6 linked regions of the Homo sapiens genome follow. The protein of the gene in region 4 purifies or fractionates together with the protein of the main gene of each other region. This does not show direct contact. Each region holds a gene or a part of one and is shown on either strand. Other genes may lie near its edges. The genes, in order: TBX2, AHCTF1, ZFHX4, AFG3L2, TBX3 and SUPV3L1.

Region 1 (4,050 bases), on a different chromosome or scaffold from region 4:
TTCACTCTCCCCGTGCACACCTTGAGTTATAGCTCTCGCTGCGCACAGAGGGCACCACACGGGGCCCGACACACACACACACACACACACACACACACACACACACACACACACCATCACTTCATGGGGGGGAAACTGAGGCTGCCGGAAGACAGAAAACGAAGACTGATCACAGAAGAGGGGGCTTCAATCACAGGTGCTCGCAGACACCCCAACTCCCTCACGCGTTACTCAGCACTCCTTAACTTAGGAGACGTGCGCTTCCGAGAGATGAGAAGAAACTAAAAAAGTGGTTGGCAGGGCGAAGAGAGGAAGCCGGTATTTCGGAAGAAGGAGACTTTCGTCTCCGGTACCGGATAGGGCGAAAATTCGTTGGGTCGCGGGTGGAGAATCCGGGGTCCGCCCGCGCGGTGCCGCCCTGTGCTCAGCGAAAGGTGCGCTCACCTTCCTGGCCCCGAGGATCCGCTCCTCCCGGCCGCTGGAAAGCTCAGGGCGGGGCCCGGGCCTGCGGAGAACTCCAGGTTCCTTCCGAGTCTTCCGGTGAAGGCGGGCGCGGGTAGGGGGTCCCCGCGTTTCCCCAGCGCAAGGCCGCGTCCCGCTCCCGCCCGCGCCGGCCCCAGCAGGGCTCGGCCATGGCTCCACTCACCAGCTCCCGCCACCTGGGATCCGCTCCCGGACCTCGGCCGCCCGAGCCTCCCGACTCGCCCGCCCACCGGCCTCGCTTTCCAGTGCCTGCTGTCTCTTTCCGGGGCGCAGGGACCCCCAGGCGGCGCCACGACCCGGAGCTGGGTCGGAGGCCAGGCTGGGGCTCGGGCCAGAGCGGCCGGGCCTCTGGGCGCGGGAGAAGGAGGGCGCCCCCTCTCCGCTCGGGGTCGTGTCAATGCTTTGCACTTGGGGCCGGCGTGCGGCTGCGGGTCCTTCCCCAAGGCCCCGGGACCCGGGCTCCCCTCGCCTCAGGCCCTTTCGGCGGGTCAGGTCGGCCCTCCGCGCTCTCCAGTCCGGCGCAGGCAGCCGCAGGCGCGGGCGGGCGGTGGGGGCCGGGGCAGGAGGAGGGGTCTCGGGGCCCGGCGGCCCGTCATTGGTTAATATTTTATTCTGTTGACATGTTTTCTTACTGCTGAGGCTTCCGACACCTTCTCCCAGGCCCCCCCTCCCGGCCGGAGCTTGGCCTGAGCTGTCAAAACCCCGCCCCCGGAGACCCACAATTGGTCCAAAAAGCGTAAAATCAGCAATCAAGGGGGGCCTGGCTCGTTAGCGCAGGGGATCCGAGCTGGGCAGGACATGTGAGATAGTCACAGTTTTCCAGAGATCACGACAAGATCTAACCAGTCGCGCGTGGTCCCCGGCGCCGGAGCGGGCCAGCTCAGCCCGGCCCAGCCCGGCCCCGCGCAGAGCCCCCGCCGCCCCCGCGCACAGAGCCGGGTGCCCCTTGCGGTGCGCCGGACGGGAAGCCCCGAGGAGCAGCTGCTGCGCCCGCCACCCGGGTCGTCCGTCCACCGCGCGCGCCGCCGCCCGGGCCGGGGGTCCGAGCCGCGCGCCCCCGGCCCCGGCCCCGGCCCCCGGGCGCCTGGGCCGGATGTCCCGATGAGAGAGCCGGCGCTGGCGGCCAGCGCCATGGCTTACCACCCGTTCCACGCGCCACGGCCCGCCGACTTCCCCATGTCCGCCTTTCTGGCGGCGGCGCAGCCCTCCTTCTTCCCGGCACTCGCGCTGCCGCCCGGCGCGCTGGCCAAGCCGCTGCCCGACCCGGGCCTGGCGGGGGCGGCGGCCGCGGCGGCGGCGGCGGCAGCAGCGGCCGAGGCGGGGCTGCACGTCTCGGCACTGGGCCCGCACCCGCCCGCCGCGCATCTGCGCTCCCTCAAGAGCCTGGAGCCCGAGGACGAGGTGGAGGACGACCCCAAGGTGACGCTGGAGGCCAAGGAGCTGTGGGACCAGTTCCACAAGCTAGGCACGGAGATGGTCATCACCAAGTCCGGGAGGTAGGGCTGCCGGCCGGCTGGAAGGCGCGCGGGCGGGCGGGCGGGCTGGGGCACGGGACTGCACGGATCAGAGCAGAGCTGGGGACTCCCGGCTCCCGGCTCCCGGCTCCAGGTTCTGGCCCTGACGCCACGCTTCGCTCCCACGGACAACCAAGTTGACTTTTCTCGTTTGGCACCGGAGCGATTTTTTTTTAAAACAAAAACGCTAAAATCCTCCGAATGAAATAAAACGAAAACATACTGCTAAAGAATAGCCCCAACCGTTCTGAGTCCCAGCGCAGAGGAGGCCCCGCGGCTTGGCCCTGGCGGTCTCCTCCGCCCCGCGCTCTCGCTCTTCTGCGTCCGGGTCCGTCTCCGAGCTCGGGGGAAATTCAGCCTCTCTCAGACTCTGCTCCGACCCCGAAGCCCCTAGTGGGACCTGGGCCCAGCTAACCCCACGCTGGTTGCTCGGTTCCTGGCAGCGAGCCCCGGGTCAGCCGAGCCCTCCGCCTCACCGGGCTGGGAGCCCTTTCTCCACCGCGGGCATCCGAGCCCTGGACGCATCCGCCGCCCCAGGCCTTAAAGCCTGAAGAAAGCCACAGCCCCGGCCCCTCCACCCTTCGACTCAGCCACCGAGAATCCAGGCCTCGGGTTCACCCTCTTCCCCCGAACTGCACGGCCAGGATGTCTTATCAGGCTCTGTAGCCCAGTTCCCAATACAAACACCCTCCAGATTTATTTCTGGGAGCTTCCGTCCCAAGTGGGTATTTCCCCTGAACGAATTTCGGGGAGATTAAGGAGAAGCGAGAATATTTCTAGAGGGCCTAGACTTCTCTCCTGGGCATCAGCTTTCATCTCAGATCAGGGAGAAAGAGGGTCCCCAGATCTGAGCACAAGGCCTAAAGGAGGCTGTTTAGGAGAGGGTCTGACAGGCAGAAATGGGATCTCCTGGGAGCAACAACCACAGGTGGGGTCGTCCGGGCAGTGATGAGAGGGCAGAGCAGCCGACCACAGGGGAAACAGCCAGGCGGCAGCGGTGTGCGCAACGAGGAGGGATAAATAAAGGAGGAGTGGGGTCCTGGAACCTAGAACAGCCGGTTCCAATGGGATCTCCTCCCTTCCCTCCCTCCCAGGCGGATGTTCCCCCCCTTCAAGGTGCGAGTCAGCGGCCTGGACAAGAAGGCCAAGTATATCCTGCTGATGGACATTGTAGCCGCTGACGATTGCCGCTATAAGTTCCACAACTCGCGCTGGATGGTGGCGGGCAAGGCCGACCCTGAGATGCCCAAACGCATGTACATCCACCCAGACAGCCCAGCCACGGGGGAGCAGTGGATGGCTAAGCCTGTGGCCTTCCACAAGCTGAAGCTGACCAACAACATCTCTGACAAGCACGGCTTCGTGAGTGTTGGGGCAGGGTGGGGACGGTGCAGGAGCTTGTTGACCCAGCACTGCAGCTGAGCAGGAGAGCAGGGCGGCAGGATCTCCCAGGGGGAAGCGCTGGGCAAACCCCCAGAGTGCCCCTGCCCGGGTCACTGCCCTGTGGTCTACGTGGGCTGGGCCTGGGCCTGGGCCCCAGCGCTCTCCTTTGCAAGCCTGGGAAATGGTGGGGTCAGTGGCTGGCAGCTCACAATCTCAGTTCCTCAGGCCGTGGAGGGTCCCTTGTACCGTCAATAGGGAGGCAGGTGCTGCCAGGACTGGGTCTGCAGTGCTGGACCACGGAGGTCACCCTGCTCTTGGCCTGTAGGTGCCGAGCTTGGAAGACCTGCCCATGACCTCAACTTGTCCATCACCCTTCTGCCAAGACCCGCGTCCCTGGCCCTCCCCCAAGACTAGGGGATTTAAAAGTTAAACCACCCTCCCCACCCACCCCCCCAGCCTCCCTAAGACCTTTCCCTCCTCCCACAGGCAGATGCCCAACTAGGAGGAGAGGGTTTGGGGGTTCTCTCCATTTATGCCTGAGCAAGGCCCCAGCGAACGGGGGTGGTGTTTCATAGGGTAAAAGGAACTGCCCATTCTGAGGTAGGGCAGTTGGTGAGCCCCCGAAGGTTGGAATCTCCTCTTTGTGGGGTTAGGGGGTTTACCAGTGCCA
Region 2 (3,500 bases), on a different chromosome or scaffold from region 4:
CGGGTGGATCACGAGATCAGGAGATCGAGACCATCCTGGCTAACACTACTAAAAAAAATACAAAGAAATTATCCGGGCGTGGTGGCGGGCGCCTGTAGTCCCAGCTACTCGGGAGACTGAGGCAGGAGAATGGTGTGAACCTGGGAGGCAGAGCTTGCAGTGATCCAAGATTGTGCCACTGTATTCCAGCCCGGGGGGCCAAATAATAATAATAATAAATAAAGTAGATGACTTGTTGTACTGATACAGTTTGAGCCCAGGAGAATGACTCTCCCCATAACAATTGATCATTTGTCCTAAAAATGATTTGTAGCTATAGGGGATCCTCCTCTCCCCTCGTCACTCAGAAAATTTTTAATTGGATCTTCGATTTTGGTAGTATAACTTAATTTCTTCACAGTGTTAGAAAAGTGTGGTTAGACCTATGTTTTGCATGGAGGAGAATGAAATGACAGAATGTGTGATATTTTAGCCAACTTTTTTTAAGTTCATTTTATTAAGGTTTTATTAAAAAGTTAAAATGAAAAACATTTTATTGGCAGGGAGTGGCAGGAAGTCATTCACATAACTTATACACTCCTCAGGACCTGGAGGAATATAGTAACCACCAAAAGTGAGAGTTATTTTGTTAGAGCTTAGCAAACATCTCAGTAATTCTGATTTTTGTCATCTTTACCTATTTTTCATTTCTGTACCTACTAATTTTAACTTTTTTCTGTTAAACTAAAAATACCTGCAACAACATGGCCAAAAAAACCCCATCTCTACAAAAAGTACAAAAATTAGCCAGACCTGGTGGCATAGGCTTGTGGTCCCAGCTACTTGGGAGGCTGAGGCAGGAGGATCACTTGAGCCTGAGAGTTTGAGGCTGCAGTGAGCCATGATCGTGTGCCCCTGCACTCCAGCCTGGGCAACAGAGCAAGACCACGTCTCAAAACAAAAACAATACATGCCTACTTACTGAAAACTCTAAAATAGAAGTATATAATCCAGCCATCGAAAGAATCACCATTCACGTTTTCCTGTATATCGTTCCAGATACATATGTATGGTTGGTATTTAAAAACCTGCAGTTTATGTACGTGCATATATTCTGCTTTTGTCCCCCTACTTATGTCATGAGCATTTTCAGTTTTTTTTTTGTTTGTTTTTTTTTTTTGAGATGGAGTTTGGCTGTTGTTACCCAGGCTGGAGTGCAATGGTGTGATCTTGGCTCACTGCAACCTCCGCCTCCTGAGTTCAAACAATTCTCCTGCCTCAGCCTCCCCAGTAGCTGGGATTACAGGTGCTTGCCACCACGCCTGGGTCATTTTTTTGTATTTTTAGTAGAGACAGGGTTTCGCCATGTTGGCCAAGCTAGTCTCAAACGCCTGACCTCAGATAATCCACCCGCCTTGGCCTCCCAAAGTGCTGGGATTATAGGCATGAGCCACTGTGCCCAGCCTTCAGTTAATCTTAAATATTCTTCAAAATCCAACCAGCCTGGGCAACTTAGTGGGACCCCATCTCTACAAAAGAAAAATTTTTAATGATTTGGGCATGTGGTGGCTGCACCTGTAGTCCCAGCTACTTGGGAGGCTGAGGTGTGAGGATGGCTTGAGCCCGGGAGGTTGAGGTTGCAGTGAGCCATCACACCACTGTGCTCCAGCCCAGGTGACAGATTGAGATCCTGTCACCTCCCCACCCCCATCCCCCCAAAAAATATATATATGTATATGTATATATATTTCAAAATCTTAAACGTAATATTTCTTTTTTTTTCATATTGGCATTTCATCTCACAAATGTGCCACAGATTGTTTAAACCCTCTTCTGTTGGGTATTTGAATTGCTTTCAGATTTTTTAATATTAAAAATAGGCACCTGCTAGAATGAGATGATGGGATTGGAAGGGATAAGAAACTTGGGATTGAGATCTCTCATTTCTGCCACTTACTAGCTGGGCAGAAAATCATTTAACCTTTATGAGCCTTGTTTCCTCCTCCTAGAATGAATGTGGTAGTGCATACCTTACAGGGGTTCTTATGAGTATTCACTCCTTTAACAAAGCAATGACCACTCTAGGACATAGCTTCCTGTCTTCCTCTGCCCTTTATACTGTTACCATACTTTCTGTCCCTTGTGCCTATTTATATTCTAAACTTCGTTTTTACATAGGGATGCAGGTGCCGAGAAGACTGGGTATAGGTATACTATATGATTGGAAGGCTAGAGGTGGTCCTTTATTTTATTGAAACATAGCGAAGAAATTATCTTAGAATTTTGTGTTTTACTAAATGAATATGAAACTTCACATTTCATACAGCAGATATTAAGAAGGGCCTGCTATATACCTAAGGCCATACTAGATACATGACATTCATATATCGTTTGATTCCCACTTCAACCCAGTAAAGTGTAGGTACTTTTACTTCCTTCTGTCCTCATTGAGGAAACTGAAGTTCATTGAGACTGTGCACTCACATCACCCAGGGAATAAGTAAGATGTGTTGTTCTAGAGCTACTACTGCTACTACTGGCTGGTAAGAGCCAATTGTTAAATATCCAAGAACTTGTAACCCAGCCATGGTTTGCATTGGCCACAGGAGGCACATTTATACCTTAGAAATCAGCAAATGCTGCAAATCAGAGCTCTCTTTGAATTTCCAGAGTCATTTGCTAGGACACAGTTGGGTTTGAACCTAGGCCTTTTGAACTCCTTAATCCTCAAAACAAGAGATGGGTAAAGAATTGACATACACTCAAGAAAGTCTCATCTGTGCTATAATAGAAGCACATGGAAAAAATGGTGGAGGCTATTTTTGCATGTGATAGTATATTTTTGTATTTCCTTATATATTTGAAATGGAGTAGGAAAGCTTAGGTGAAGATTACGAAAAGTGAAATAAATCGTTTTTTCAGGTAGCCTAGAAGAGAGTTATAGAATGTATAATTTTCGTAGAAATACTTTTGTTCATCTGTTTCTTGAAGCCAAGAGAGAGACCACCAGTAGACCTAGCCATTGCCATTTCTGCCATTTACAAGCTGGGAGCAGAGATTATATATTTCTGATATCTGATATCAACTCTATTTTTCTTTTTTTTAAGAATCATATGCTTATATATACACCTACTGTGTACCCACAAAAAACATTTTTATATATACACCTACTGTGTACCCACAGAAAACATTTTTATATATACACCTACTGTGTACCCACAAAAAACATTTTTATATATACACCTACTGTGTACCCACAAAAAACATTTTTTTAAAGAATCATGCTCGAAAAGCAGAATTTGATAGAACTCTTGACTATCCCAGTAGCTGAAGTAACATGAACTGTGATTTTATTTCAAGGGTTTGTAAATGATATTCTTGAAATAACAAATGCAAACATCTGTAGAGCACTTACCACCTACCCTGCCACACATTGTTCTGCTTCTTTCATCCTCAGAACAACTTTGAGATAGATGCTACTATTAACCCTATTTTATAGAAACTGATGCACAGACAGGTTT
Region 3 (3,500 bases), on a different chromosome or scaffold from region 4:
TCATCTTAAAAAAAAAAATCCTTAAGGGAATATTTGATAGTTTTCAAGGTTTGTGGTTTCAGTCAGCAGGAAGGCACACAAAAATAAAAGATGGCTAGCCAGCTGTTTTAACCTCTTGCACCTGGCTTCAGTGTGGGGATCATAAGGTTTATACAGTTCTTTTTTTGAATGGTTTTAATATTTATGGCATAAACTGGGGAGAGCACCACTGTGTTTTTATTCAGTTGCTGGTTGATTTTGGATTTTTAAAAAAGTAAACTCATATTTAGGTGTTTTCATGTTTATGGCAATGAAGATAGGGTCAATGAAATATGGGGGAAATATCATAAATCTGAAAAGTGAAATGTACCCAAGGAACAAAGAAAGGTCAGGTAAACCAGCTGTGTAAGTCAAAGCAATAGCACCAACTGTGGGGTTAGACAGGGATAGTGGACTCTGGTTCTATGAAGTGAAAGTTGCCACTTAAAGTTAAAAATGAGGCAAACATGTTCAGTGCTTTTGTAATCTTTTGCAGTTTTTAGCAGATGAGCCCAAATCTGTTCATTAATTTTGAGCTAGTTGGATTATTTTAAAAGATTCTTCATGAGCAAAGGAAAACATAAAGGAGGCTGAGAAAATCACTGTTTAATATTGCAGAATTTACTGCTTCCATTCTGACCATGAGCCTAAATTTACACAATGAAATTTGATTATCTCTAATAACAATATTAGATCCTGCACTGGATGGATGAGAATTGAGGTGGTTTTGTTGATTGCAAGGGTTTAATGTTGCATTTCAGAATCTGATGTGGTTTGGCCTCCCCTCCATTAACTGGAAAACCCCTGAGGTTTTACAATTATTTCTTAAAGATAATACATTTAAGATTGCATTGGTAGGCTGAAGAAAAGTCATAAAGGCAAGAAGGGAAGCCCTTAATAACTCTTGAGATTCAGACATGTTCAGCAGTTAGATTGGCTCTGACTTCACCAAGGGTCGACAATGTGTCATTTCCACGAAGCCAAATTGCCCTCTGCCTATATGATATTAATGTGCAAATCAATATTTCAGGGATTAAATTTCCCTCCTTCATTTTTTATGGTTTCTACCTCAATAAGTCTCAAGTCTATTAGAAGAGGCTGGATGATTTAAAATCTTTCACTGCAGAATGGCTTGTCGTAGTCTTGTTTCATAGACCGTTTTAGGATTTTCGTTATAAAGACTAAAGACATCCTAAAGAAGTTGTGAGGCAGTGTAGACCCAGGCTCAATAGTGTAAAGCCCGTGTTCGATTAAGAACTAAAAGATATTGAAAATATAATATATACGTTTATGTAATATATATGTACATTCTGCTGCTTTAAAAATATTATGTTAATCACCTATTGATTTATTTCAAAATCAATTGAAGCTTCTTTCTTATTAGTGATTTGTTCAGCTTTCTTGAGGACTGTGTTAATTTTCTTAAAGAGTATGCATGAATTAGCTTGGTGTGAAAGTATTGGGGCAGAGGAGTTTTCAATTAGCAATATTTTCCTAAGAAATATTTTCAGCAACCATTGTTTAGGAGAGTAATAATCAAGAGGTGTCATTTGCATACATTGTTGTTATAGCTATCATTGCATTTTGTGGCTGAATGACTTAGCTGATCTATGTTAAATGAGGCCTTCTTCAATTCCTTTTACATTTTGTTTCTAGCACTTAGTAGGTGCAACGTTTCTTTTTATCCTCTTAGAGAAAGAAAATTATGAAACAAAATATGTGACTTGACTGGAAAGAATACAGAGCAGAAATTTGGAGAGAGGTCAAAATAAAAGATTGTGACTTTATCACATAATCTTGGGAAGGCCTACTGTCTATCATTTGGTGGTGTTTTATGGTCTTAAACCCTCTGGACCAAGTTCCGCACAGCTGCACGAATTTCATATGTGATAGAACATTTTTTCCATTCAGTGTGAAATGTTCCTTCCTAAAAAACGTACACCAGACTCGCTTAATTTAGTCTGTTAAAAGAAATGCACATGAAAAAGGACAAAAGGCTCTTTAATCTCTGCAAGCTGTTTGTTTTTCTTCAAGATTCCTGTCTATTTGGGTTTGAAAAGTCATGTTTATTGAGGAGATGATTCTGAGGTGTGACATTAAAATAATATATGATTTTTGGACTGGTGGCCACGCTTCTGCTTAATTTGCAGAACTACTTTTTATGCCTGTCAAAACACAGCGTTAATCTATCCTTATTTACAATTAATCTCAATAAAATTAATCTTAACTATGCTTTATTCAGTGGCTTAAAATATCTAATTATATTCAATTAACTGCTGTCATAGTAATTAATATTGCTTAATTGACTCTGCATATATTTATGTAAAGCTCATTAGGTGCTGCTGACTCCTTTTCCCTTTCCTACTTGCTATTTTTGCTGTTGTCAAACCATGTTCATCTCCCAAGGTTCGACAATGTCAATGAGAACAAATTCTTTCTTAACATTTTCTTGAAATGAATGTTCCTGCCTTCCTTTGAGAAGATACTCGTTATGAGTCTTTAAAGACTAATCCATCTCCCTCTCTTCATTTTCCTTATCCCTGGTCTCTAGCACTCTCACAAAATATGTTCTGTCATTGTTGCTAGAAATATGAGAAGCCAGGTTAAGCTTTGTGTTTATAAATGAGGAGCCTTTCTGTGACTGCCTAAGGGCTGTACCCACAGGGAGAGGGTTTCCCCCCCTTCTAAGACCACTCTAAGGGTTAAAGACTTGGCCAAGGTTCAAACTGAGAAGCGCCCAGGGAAAGTGCATGTGAATATGTACAAGTTTCATGTAATTAGTGCTTAATTATATTAACATATGCAAATTGTCAACTTAGGAGCTTGTTGAGCTGGCAAAGATCAGCTAGGCACAATTGCAGTATTGTTCTGAAACAATAATGGATTTCAAGTTGGATTGTGGAAACACATAACTAGCTATCTAATTTAACTCATACCGTGGTGAAATTTCATTAGTCTCCATGGAGACTGGTTTAATTGTGCTGACTAATGTTCTGGGCTGCAGAATGTCCTAAAAAGAAAGCGTTGTTTGCCTAATCCACCTTACAATGACACTTGTTTGTACATGTTTCCCTTGTGTGAGAATTTGCATATGCAAATAAATAGTTTCTCTGCCCCATTTGTCATGGCTGTTCATTACCCATGAAGAGGACATTGTTACTAGGCTGTTACTGAGTCTCCCAAGACGGGATAGTGTCAACCAGTCCAGCTACATTCTTTCATAATTTGTTTCTGATTAATAGACCAGAGTGAGTCTCATTCTTTTTGGGCATCTGTAAAAGGAAGGTCACTTCTGTCACAGAAAAGAGTTTCTGCAGTAACTGAAGGACTTTTTCTTCTTCTTATTCTCCCTTTTCCACCCATTGGTTAACATAATCATATTTAAAATAATGGATTCTTGTTCTAAGAATGCCTCTACTAATAATCTCTGGTTTCCTAAAGCAAAAAGATAGGAAAAGAAAAGAGATTCTGTTATTGGAATA
Region 4 (3,500 bases):
CTAGACATGCAGATCTTGGATTACATATGCAGAGGAGAAGAAGTTTCATTGATGATTTCTTCATAGAACACAACCTCAGTGTTAAATTCAGTCACGGATTATTGCTAGGGATATTCCATGTCAACACAATTTGAAAATAGAGCCTAAAAAGGGCTTTTCTGTCAATATTTATGGAGCGCATACAGTGCCCTGTTCTGTACTAAACTTTATGGTGATATAAAGACTTGCTTTATATGGTACTATGGTTTGAGTTTGGCCTCACCAAAACTCATGTTGAAATTTGTTCCCCATCGTGGTGGTATTGAGAGGTGGGGCCCAGTGGGAGGTGTTTGGGCCATGGGGGTGGAGCTCTCATGAGTGTCTTGGTGCCATTCTAGAGGTAGTGAGTTCTGTGAGCTGTATTGGGACTGGCTTAATTTCAGAGACCTTAGGTTGTTATAAAGTAGAAGTTCCTCCCTCATGGTATGTGGCTGCTTTGCCATTGACCTTCTCCCACCGTGTTTTGATGTAGCACCTTCTCCTGCCATAATTTGACCTAGCATGTGACCCTCACCATAAGCCCAGCACCCTGTTTCTCATACTTCCCCTCTTGCAGAACTGTGAGCTAAATAAACCTTTCTTTGTAAATTACCCAGCTTCAGGCACTCTGTTATAGCGGAACAGAAAGGACTAAGACTAAGACGTGGCAATATAAAGACCCCTTCATATTACCTCTGCACCACTCCTGTTCCCTGTACTCAGAGCTTTTGTTTGGTTACATTGTTATGCCATAGTGTAACTGATTTGTCCCATGATTTTCTTCCCTATGTTTCTGTGCTTCTTAGGGGTGGGAACTGGTTCTGATTCCCCTTCGGACACCCCACTGCTTGACAGCACCTGGCCTGGAGTTGTTGACTTGTCTAGCTTGAATAACATTTCATTTTAATCTACACCCTTAATGGATTTGGCACTGGAAAAAAACTCTTATGTTGCATTCTTATCTGTTATCAGTGGTTATTTCATAGGCCAAGTGTTCCTGTGGTTGGGCAGGGTGTAACACAACATAAGCTCCAAAGTCTCCCAGGCCAGTATTGCACTCAGACAAAAACAGTGTTGGTGTTCCTGTCCTGTTTTGCTGTGTGGAATTCTGTATTTATTTGAAGTTAAATCATCTCATTCTGTTTTATTTGTTTTTTATTGACATTTTAATTTACAAACCATTGTTCATCTTAAATGTACAGTTCATTGGTTTTTAACATATTCATAAAGTTATGCAACCATCATCACTGTCTCCAATTCCAGAACATTTTCAGCACTCCAGAAAGAAGCCCTGCGACCATTAGTAATCATTTCGCATTTCTCTGTAATCATTCCCCCAACTCTAGGCAACTACTAATGTGTCTATCTCTCTATGGATTTGCCTATTCTAGACATTTCGTATAAATGGAATCATAATATGTGACCTTTTGTGTCTGCCTTCTTTCACTTAATATGATGTTTTCAGAGTTCATCCACGTGTCAGTACTTCATTCCTTTGTTTGAGTGACTGGTATTCTCTTGTATGGGTATACCACATTTTATTTATCTGTTCATCATCAGGTGGTGAACGTTTGGCTTGTTCCTACTTTTTGACTGTTATGAATAAGGCTTCTGTGAACATTTGTGTGCATATTTTTCGTGGACATGTGTTTTCAGCTTCCTTGGGTAGGGATGGCATTGCTGGGTCATATGGTGACCCATAGAGTCATGTGGTACCATTTTGGAGCTCTGTCAAACTGTTTTCCAGAGTGGCTACACCATTTTACATTCTCACCAGCACAGTGTACAGGGCTCCAGTTTCTCACATCCTCACCCATACTTGTCTGTCTTTTTGATTATAGTGGATGTGAGGTGGTTTTATTTGGTTTTGTAATTTTTATAACTATTATTTTATTTTTATTTTTTTGAGACGGAGTCTCACTCCATCGCCCAGGCTGGAGTGCAGTGGCGTGATCTCGGCTCACTGCAACTTCTGCTGCCTGGGTTCAAGCAGTACTCCTGCCTCAGCCTCCCGAGTAGCTAGGATTACAGGCACCTGCCACTGTGCCTGGCTAATTTTTGTATTTTTAGTAGAGACGGGGTTTCACCATCTTGGCCAGGCTGGTCTTGAACTCCTGACCTCGTGATGCACCCACCTCGGCCTCCCAATGTACTGGGATTACAGGTGTGAGCCACTGCGCCTGGCCAGGGTTTGTCTTTTGAATGCTACAAATTAAACAAACATCATCAAAGTGAATGTGTTGTCACATAATTATAATTGGATTGCAATTCTACATTATGTCTGATTTTGAAATATTCTTGTTTTCTGGATAATAATGTGTGTCTCCTGGTTCTTTTGCTGGAATCAGTGGCCTAGTGCTAGGTAATCCTAGTCCTCACTAAGGGAGTCATTCTGTGTTACTTCATAACCACCTGTGGAAGAGAGAGACCTTTCATCTACTTTATGACCAGGAAATGAAGCTCTTTTAAGTTTTTTATCTTGATATAACTATGGTTTTATTTTTATGTCTTGTTGCAGCTTTACCGATTTGTTACAACTCAAGCAAGGGCCAGCAGAAATTCTCTTTTGACAGATATAATTGCTGCTTATCAAAGATTCTGTTCTCGACCCCCAAAAGGTAAATGCTTAGGTGTGGCTGTAGTGTTCTACATTCTTAGGTTGGGTCTTTTGTCTCCTTCTGTAACCCATTCCCCTGCCTCCAACTTATGTCTGATTACAGCGATGAAGATATGTCATCTTCAAATGTAACACATTTGTAGATAATGAAATTGATATGCAAAAAGGAGGCTTTTTCCTTTAACACTTCTGGGTTGTGAACTATATTATTTAGACTTTGATGTACTTGTACACAAGAAATGTTATGCTTTTAGCTTGTGCTTTTTTTTTTTTTTTTGGAGACTGAGTTTGGCTCTTGTCGCCCAGGTTGGAGTGCACTAGTGCGATCTTGGCGTACTGCAACCTCCGCCTTCTGGGTTCAAGCGATTCTCCTGCCTCAGCCTCCCGAGTAGCTGGGATTACAGGCACCTGCCACCACACCCAGCCAATTTTTTGTACTTTTAGTAGAGTCGGAGTTTCGCCATGTTGGGCAGGCTGGTCTCGAACTCCTGACCTCAGGTGATCTGCCCACCTCAGCCTCCCAAAGTGCTGGGATTACAGGCATGAGCCATTGCGCCTGGCCAGCTTGTGCTTTTCAGTGATGCATCAGCTGCTTTGAAAACAAAATGAACACAAACCTGATGAATTTTAGTTTGAAGATAAGTATTTTTTTTCTTTTTCTAACAGGATTTGAAAAATACTTTCCTAATGGAAAAAATGGAAAAAAAGCTAGTGAACCTAAAGAAGTTATGGGAGAGAAAAAAGGTACCTTTTGACAATATTATATTTGAATTTTGTGTTTTCCCCTCATGTATAATGGTGGTAGTTTCCACTGAACAAAGAAAAGAGTTATCAGGCCGGGCACAGTGTCTCACGCCTGTAATCC
Region 5 (3,500 bases), on a different chromosome or scaffold from region 4:
CTTGTGTCTCTTCCAATAGATAACCCAGTTAAAAATAGACAACAACCCTTTTGCAAAAGGTTTCCGGGACACTGGAAATGGCCGAAGAGAAAAAAGGTGAGTTGAAACAATTATTTATTAGATAGTTTAGAAAAATCCCTTTTTTTAGGATCCAACTCTGAAGTGTTAGAAGTGAGATGCAGGCACTTATCCTAAGAGCGGGTGGAAATCATTCACTTTCCCCACTGCTACATGCTTGCCGCTATCAGTATACCCAGGACAAGTACTTTTCCTACCTCCTTACCTTTAAGGAAATTAACTAGGCTACACCATACTTATCTCTGGAAGAGAAGCATCAGGGATAATAGATTATACAGGGATGCCTATTAATTCCTAATTAATTTAAGTTCATCCTAGGCAGGTCCCAGAAAGAACCATGCCATTGAGAAAATACTTGGGAATTTTTGCAATCCTGTCTTCCAAATACCATCAGACAGAGCTGGGGACTTCGGAAAGATGTATGGCTCTCTCCCTCCTTCGTGGGGACATGTATCATTTTGCATTACGTAGACAGCTGGAGAGTATATGAAAGAGGGTCTCCCCTCCCCCACCCCCTTTCAAAGAATTTCTAAAATCCAGAAAATCACCCCCAAATTTTTAACCTATCCCCTTGGGGCGGGCATTAAAAAATAATTGCTAACAGCTAAATATATTTTTATTCCAATTAATTTGTTAGTAAAACGATTACAGTAAAGTGCAGCATGAAATAACCACTTCCTCCCAATCTTAGCCACCATCCAAAATTTGGGTATGCTGGGGACAGACAGCGTTGTGTTTGCAGGATTGGACACCCGGTTCTCCCTATATAAGGCTGGCAGTCCAGCTGTCTCTGACTAGATCCAGCCTCTTCTCCTGCTTTTAAATAAAATTTCACAGCCCAAGCAAATGCCTTTTCCTAATGAAACCCCATCTTGAATAAATGCAACTGAAGCCTCCTTCCTTTCTCCCTAACCCTCTGCCACACTCTTCAGCCCAGTTAGAGGGTCAAGGACAAAGCTTGGGTCTATGTGGCTGCCCTGGGGCAAGCAGATTTCAGTGAATTAGCGTTGTCCCTGGGCAGCAGGCAGGGTGTGAGGTATGTGTGTGCCGCTTTGGAAAGGGTAAGGGAAACAAAGAGGGGAAATGTATGTTACATTCTGTAACCTGGGTGTGGGCTTCTGCCACAGAAAACAGCTCACCCTGCAGTCCATGAGGGTGTTTGATGAAAGACACAAAAAGGAGAATGGGACCTCTGATGAGTCCTCCAGTGAACAAGCAGCTTTCAACTGCTTCGCCCAGGCTTCTTCTCCAGCCGCCTCCACTGTAGGGACATCGAACCTCAAAGGTAAACCATGTCACCTTTGTGATCACTGGACTCCAGTCCCTCGTGGCCTGGAAGAGTTGAAGGGGGATGGGGCACCAACCAGGGCACTTGCCCTTTAAAAGCTAGAAGCCTTCTAAACATCCTTAAACAGAAGCCAGAGTTCAAAAAGGGCTATCAGGTGTGTCTCCCCTTCCCCGCTAAGGCAGTAGAAGGAGAGCACAGAGGCCTTTCTCCCAGATCCTTATTTGGCTGGTGGGGAGGGGAGGTGGGTGTCTGTTTGCATACTACCTCTTGGCAAGCAGCTTTGAAAACTTGCTTGAAGCGCTTCTCTCTTTTCTCTCTGTCTCTGTTTCTTTCTCCTCCCATTCTCTCCAACCAACAGAGGCTCCAACTGCTGACTTTTCACTGTCTTTGAACTCTAGGTTACAATGTGTTGGACTGGGTGGGGGGGAAGCAAGGGACTCTGCCACCTGGAACCGAGAAGGTGGCCTAGAAAACATCCAGCTATAAAGCAACAATTGACCTGGGAGAGGAGGTGGAGCACTGGGGATCTGCGGTGGGGGTAGAGCTGGGGGAGGTGGGTGAGGAGTGGACAAGATGGCTCAAATCCCCCCTCAGTTACCTGTGTTTAAAGAGCAAGCAGTATTTATTTGGAAAGACACACACACACACACACACACACACACACACACACACACACTCTCAACGGGAAGAAACCTGTTTTTTAGTGAAATAAAATGCAAGTCCTTTATGTCTTCAATCCATTTAAGCTTTAAACATAAAATAGGATCCCTTTTTCTTTTCTTCTGGTGGAACACCCACAGAGGGTGTGGTAAAAGCGAAAAAAGAATCTATGATCGTCCCCGGGCTGTGAGCCATCTGTCCGACACTCATCTCTCTCTGCAGGGACTGGGGCAAATACAAACGGTTCAACTGAGTACTGGTGTTGAAGGACAGGTGTCCGTTCTGCCATTATCAATTCAGATGTCAGGGTTCTTGCCAAACAAATCCTTCCAGAGTAATTCACAAATTTGTGGAAGGTGCTGCTCTCTGTCATTCACTGATTTTTTGATAGTAATTAGAATATGTTCCAGCTGTGAGTTTTAATGTTACTTTTTACTTTTAAAAAGTTAATTTGCAATCGAATGGGGAGATGCATGTGAAATCTGCCACTGTAGGAACTCAAAAAAAGAAGTAAAATTCATTAAAATAAGAAGAGCTACTGATTAGGGGATTGTCCATCTAAGGGAAAGTTTAAACTCTGGGTAAATACTTTAAATTCATAATCGCTTATTGAATTTTCCAGCAATGTTGTTGGGCACGATTATCCCCATTTTGCAGATGACAACACTGAGGTGCAGAGAGGCTAAGGGGCTTTCCCCGGGATTACACAGCCACTAAGCCACGAGCTGGGATTCCAACTTGGGAACTGGAGTTCCGTTGGCTCATACTGGAGATAACGCCCTTCTGCCTTGGTTTTTTCCTTCGCCTGTGGTAGATTTATGTCCCAGCGAGGGTGAGAGCGACGCCGAGGCCGAGAGCAAAGAGGAGCATGGCCCCGAGGCCTGCGACGCGGCCAAGATCTCCACCACCACGTCGGAGGAGCCCTGCCGTGACAAGGGCAGCCCCGCGGTCAAGGCTCACCTTTTCGCTGCTGAGCGGCCCCGGGACAGCGGGCGGCTGGACAAAGCGTCGCCCGACTCACGCCATAGCCCCGCCACCATCTCGTCCAGCACTCGCGGCCTGGGCGCGGAGGAGCGCAGGAGCCCGGTTCGCGAGGGCACAGCGCCGGCCAAGGTGGAAGAGGCGCGCGCGCTCCCGGGCAAGGAGGCCTTCGCGCCGCTCACGGTGCAGACGGACGCGGCCGCCGCGCACCTGGCCCAGGGCCCCCTGCCTGGCCTCGGCTTCGCCCCGGGCCTGGCGGGCCAACAGTTCTTCAACGGGCACCCGCTCTTCCTGCACCCCAGCCAGTTTGCCATGGGGGGCGCCTTCTCCAGCATGGCGGCCGCTGGCATGGGTCCCCTCCTGGCCACGGTTTCTGGGGCCTCCACCGGTGTCTCGGGCCTGGATTCCACGGCCATGGCCTCTGCCGCTGCGGCGCAGGGACTGTCCGGGGCGTCCGCGGCCACCCTGCCCTTCCACCTCCAGCAGCACGTCC
Region 6 (3,500 bases), on a different chromosome or scaffold from region 4:
ACTAAACTTTGTCAATCTGGACCTTCACTTGCATACCATTCTCTGATCAAAGAACTCTGTGGCTCTCCAAAGCAATAAAGTAGGGCTTTTTTTAATGCAGTTTTCATGGCACAAAATTTTCTTTCACTTATGTCTGTATCCAGAAATGTGTCTGAGGTGAGAGTCTGGATGGTGGGTGAGGGAAAGAATGACTCTCCTCCACAGAGAAGCAGTAGTTAACATGTTACCTCTTACCCTTATAGGATCCACAGGCCTCTTCAAAATTTCCTTTAATAAACTGAGATCTTCATGATTCATTGTTGTAACCTCTCCTTCTTTAAACCGTGAGCTGAATCTGCCAGCTCTGCCAGCAATCTGCAGGGCTTGAGAGGTTGTGATTGGTTCTAGTTCTCTCTCTCCCTTTTCATTGATACTGGGCTTTATAAGGGAGTAAAAAATAATTCTCCTTATGCTCCTGAAACAGAAATAAAAGTGATCCTGCAGACTGTATGAAAAACCCTCCAATACTTGGGTCATTGCATAATGCTCACTCCAATACTAGCTTAGGTCCTCTTGCAACCTTGACTGCCACTTACAAAATTAAGGAAAGTCTGGCACAGTGGCTCACACCCATAATCCCAGCACTTTGGGAGGCTGAGGCAGGAGGATTGTTTTGAGGCCAGGAGTTCAAAACCAGCCTGGGCAACATAGCAAGACCCAAGTCTCTACAAAAAATTAAAAACATCAGCTAGGTTCAGTGGTGTGTGCCTGTTGCTCTAGTACTCGGGGGGCTGAGGCACAAAGACCGCTTGAGCCCAGGAGTTTGAAGCTGCGGTGAGCCATGATCACACCACTGTACTCCGGCGTGGGGCACAGAGTGAGACTCTGTCTCAGAAATAAATAAATACATAAATAAATAATATTTAGGCTTAACATTGTTATCATTTAGAGATAATAACTAGCCCCATGTGCATAATAGGCACTCGGACACCTGACTGAGAAACTGAAAGTAAAGTGACGTAGTACAATAGGTTAGCAGTAGTGGTGGGCAGCATTCAAACGTCCTAGTGTGGGCCGAGTGTAGTGGCTCATGCCTGTAATCCTAGCACTTTGGGAGGCTGAGGTGGGAAGATCACTGGAGGCCAGGAGTTAGAGACTAGCTTGGGCAACAGGGTAAGACCTTGTCACTACCCAAAAAAAAAGAAAATAACCAGGCTTTGTGGTGTGCACCTGTGGTCCCAGCTACTCTGGAGGCTGAGGCAGGAGGATCACTTGGGCCCAGGAGTTCAAGACTGCACTGAGCTACAATTTGATCACTGCACTCCAGCGTGGGTAAAAGAGCAAGACCCTGTCCCTAAGAAAAGTCCTGGCACTATTTAATATTTTCTTTTTATTTCCCTCAATAGGTGTAGGCAAGACAAACCTCAAATCTAGCCTATAATATTTATTCTCCCAAATCATAGCGTTTGGTCATTAATGCCAATTAGAAAACTGAAAAACAAAAAAACCACCATTTAACTCACCAAATATTCATCTTATTAAAAACAAATTACTTACAAATTAAGTCCCATGCCAATTGCATCTGTAGCAACCAAGATTTTGCATGGGTCATTGGGATCATTAAACTTTTTTGCTTGAGCAAGTTTGGTCCCTAAAACAAGAACAATTTATGTTAAATCAGTGTTCTCAGTCTTTTATTACATCAAGCTAAGTACATCTTGGAAACCCTCACCTCCTGTTCTTCCCATTTTTAATGATAAAACCTTTACTGTTTCAAACTTTATTTCTTTATATCCTCAAAGAGCCACTTATCCTTTACATCCATTCCTTCAAATACTCCGTCATATAGCAACACAATCCCCCACCACACTAGCCTTATTCCTGAGGACACAGATTTCAGGACTACAACTTAAAAGGACATGGTCAAGACCAGATTTCAATGACATTTCTGTAAGAAAATAATAAACTCAACATTTAAGATACAGTCTAATAATAGCAGCAACTAACAAGAACTATAATTAAAATACTTCTATTTCCACTAAGATGAAATAGAAAATTATTTATTTTATATGACGTTTAACAAATTACCAATACATCAAGCAGCTTAATTCAATATTGTTTACCATTTTTTTATATATATCTCAACATAAATTGCAAAGATAGGAGATTTCATATCTTGTCACGAGGAAAGTCAATAATTACCAGGTGGGAGACTGCCATATATAACAGCTGATTCTAATCCCCGAATTTCAATCTGCCGACTCACAGAATAAATATCATTCTTGCTAAAACAGACAATGCAGTCCCCAGGCCGAAGGTTATCTAAAGATTCTAGTGCATGGTCCAGCACAGAAATGGGGGTAAGCCTCTTATAGTCTCGAACCTACAATAAAGACATGAAATGGCAAAATGACACACCCAACTCAACTTCTTGTGACTAGTAATTAAGTGAAAAGATTGTAATGCAGTTAAGAGTAGCTAAAAACTGATAAGTACCAATGTTTTTCAAAAGAAAACACAGAAAAACATTTATTTTGATATTATAAGTGTTACCATCACTTCTCATTGGCATCTCTAAATTAATAAGATGAAACAGAGTGTTTCACCTGTTTTCAAAGCTTTTTCTCATATATTTCATTTTCACGGCAATGTGTTAAGTTCAGAAAGGTTATTAACTGCTATTTCCATTTTATAAAATAGTAAAACTGAGCCCAATAAAAAATTAATGTCTGAGGCACATTTTGCAAGTCTAACCTTCTGTGACTTGTCTAAAGAATGCAAAGCTAAGAATGGCAAAACACAGAATGGACTCCAAAATTTCTTCCACTATATTCCACTATCTCTCCTTGAAAACTGAGCACAAAACTAAAATAACAGGCTAATTCAAAACTATTTCCTTGGCTTATGCTTATAATCCCAGCACTTTGGGAGGCCAAGGTGGGAGAATTGCTTGAGCACTGGAGTTCGAGACCAGCCTTGGTAACACAGTGAGATGCCCTCTGCTCAAAAAATAAAAAATTAGATGGGCATGGTGGCAAACACCTGTAGTCCCAGCTATTTGGGAGGCTGAAGTGGGAGGATCACTTGAGTCCAGGAGGCTGAGACTGCAGTGAGTTGTGATTGCACCACAGCACTCCAGCCTGGGTAACAGAGTGAGACCTTGTCTCAAAAAATAATAATAATAATAATAATTCATTTTACTATAGAACTCTGGTAAAGAAAAAGAGAAGCAGGATTAAAAGGAAACCAGTTACTTCCAACTCTAAGAATTTCAAAAAGGAATATAAACTGTGTCTGGCAATTAGATGTGTATCAAAGGCCCCAATATCTGACATACAACACTTTGAAAACGACAAACTTGCTGGGTCTCCAACTTCTAAGAGTACTGATTTATTTAATTCGAAGAGATCTACTCAAGCCCCACAAGGTTTTGTCAAGAAGTGAAGAATTTCCTGTACTCTTGGAAGACTTAGGGTGTGATGACCACTCTGTCAGAACTTCAGATCATGAGGTTCAATCAA

What was found.
Region 1: the proteins of AFG3L2 (region 4) and TBX2 purify together in Homo sapiens (affinity purification with mass spectrometry; one large-scale study listed by BioGRID and IntAct). This does not show direct contact.
Region 2: the proteins of AFG3L2 (region 4) and AHCTF1 purify together in Homo sapiens (affinity purification with mass spectrometry; one large-scale study listed by BioGRID and IntAct). This does not show direct contact.
Region 3: the proteins of AFG3L2 (region 4) and ZFHX4 purify together in Homo sapiens (affinity purification with mass spectrometry; one large-scale study listed by BioGRID and IntAct). This does not show direct contact.
Region 5: the proteins of AFG3L2 (region 4) and TBX3 purify together in Homo sapiens (affinity purification with mass spectrometry; one large-scale study listed by BioGRID and IntAct). This does not show direct contact.
Region 6: the proteins of AFG3L2 (region 4) and SUPV3L1 purify together in Homo sapiens (affinity purification with mass spectrometry; one large-scale study listed by BioGRID and IntAct). This does not show direct contact.

Annotation. Positions count from the first base shown.
Region 1 is NC_000017.11:61,398,593-61,402,642, forward strand, and holds the start of TBX2 (T-box transcription factor TBX2), read left to right. Parts: upstream 1-1,250; 5' UTR 1,251-1,584; coding exon 1,585-1,979; intron 1,980-3,091; coding exon 3,092-3,359; intron 3,360-4,050. UniProt on the Homo sapiens protein: Transcription factor which acts as a transcriptional repressor. May also function as a transcriptional activator.
Region 2 is NC_000001.11:246,844,949-246,848,448, reverse strand, and holds part of AHCTF1 (protein ELYS), read left to right. Parts: intron 1-3,500. UniProt on the Homo sapiens protein: Required for the assembly of a functional nuclear pore complex (NPC) on the surface of chromosomes as nuclei form at the end of mitosis. May initiate NPC assembly by binding to chromatin and recruiting the Nup107-160 subcomplex of the NPC.
Region 3 is NC_000008.11:76,684,247-76,687,746, forward strand, and holds part of ZFHX4 (zinc finger homeobox protein 4), read left to right. Parts: intron 1-3,500. UniProt on the Homo sapiens protein: May play a role in neural and muscle differentiation. May be involved in transcriptional regulation.
Region 4 is NC_000018.10:12,370,728-12,374,227, reverse strand, and holds part of AFG3L2 (mitochondrial inner membrane m-AAA protease component AFG3L2), read left to right. Parts: intron 1-2,536; coding exon 2,537-2,636; intron 2,637-3,301; coding exon 3,302-3,379; intron 3,380-3,500. UniProt on the Homo sapiens protein: Catalytic component of the m-AAA protease, a protease that plays a key role in proteostasis of inner mitochondrial membrane proteins, and which is essential for axonal and neuron development.
Region 5 is NC_000012.12:114,674,176-114,677,675, reverse strand, and holds part of TBX3 (T-box transcription factor TBX3), read left to right. Parts: intron 1-19; coding exon 20-96; intron 97-1,205; coding exon 1,206-1,363; intron 1,364-2,840; coding exon 2,841-3,500.
Region 6 is NC_000010.11:69,197,234-69,200,733, reverse strand, and holds part of SUPV3L1 (ATP-dependent RNA helicase SUPV3L1, mitochondrial), read right to left. Parts: intron 2,363-3,500; coding exon 2,182-2,362; intron 1,631-2,181; coding exon 1,537-1,630; intron 455-1,536; coding exon 235-454; intron 1-234. UniProt on the Homo sapiens protein: Major helicase player in mitochondrial RNA metabolism. Component of the mitochondrial degradosome (mtEXO) complex, that degrades 3' overhang double-stranded RNA with a 3'-to-5' directionality in an ATP-dependent manner.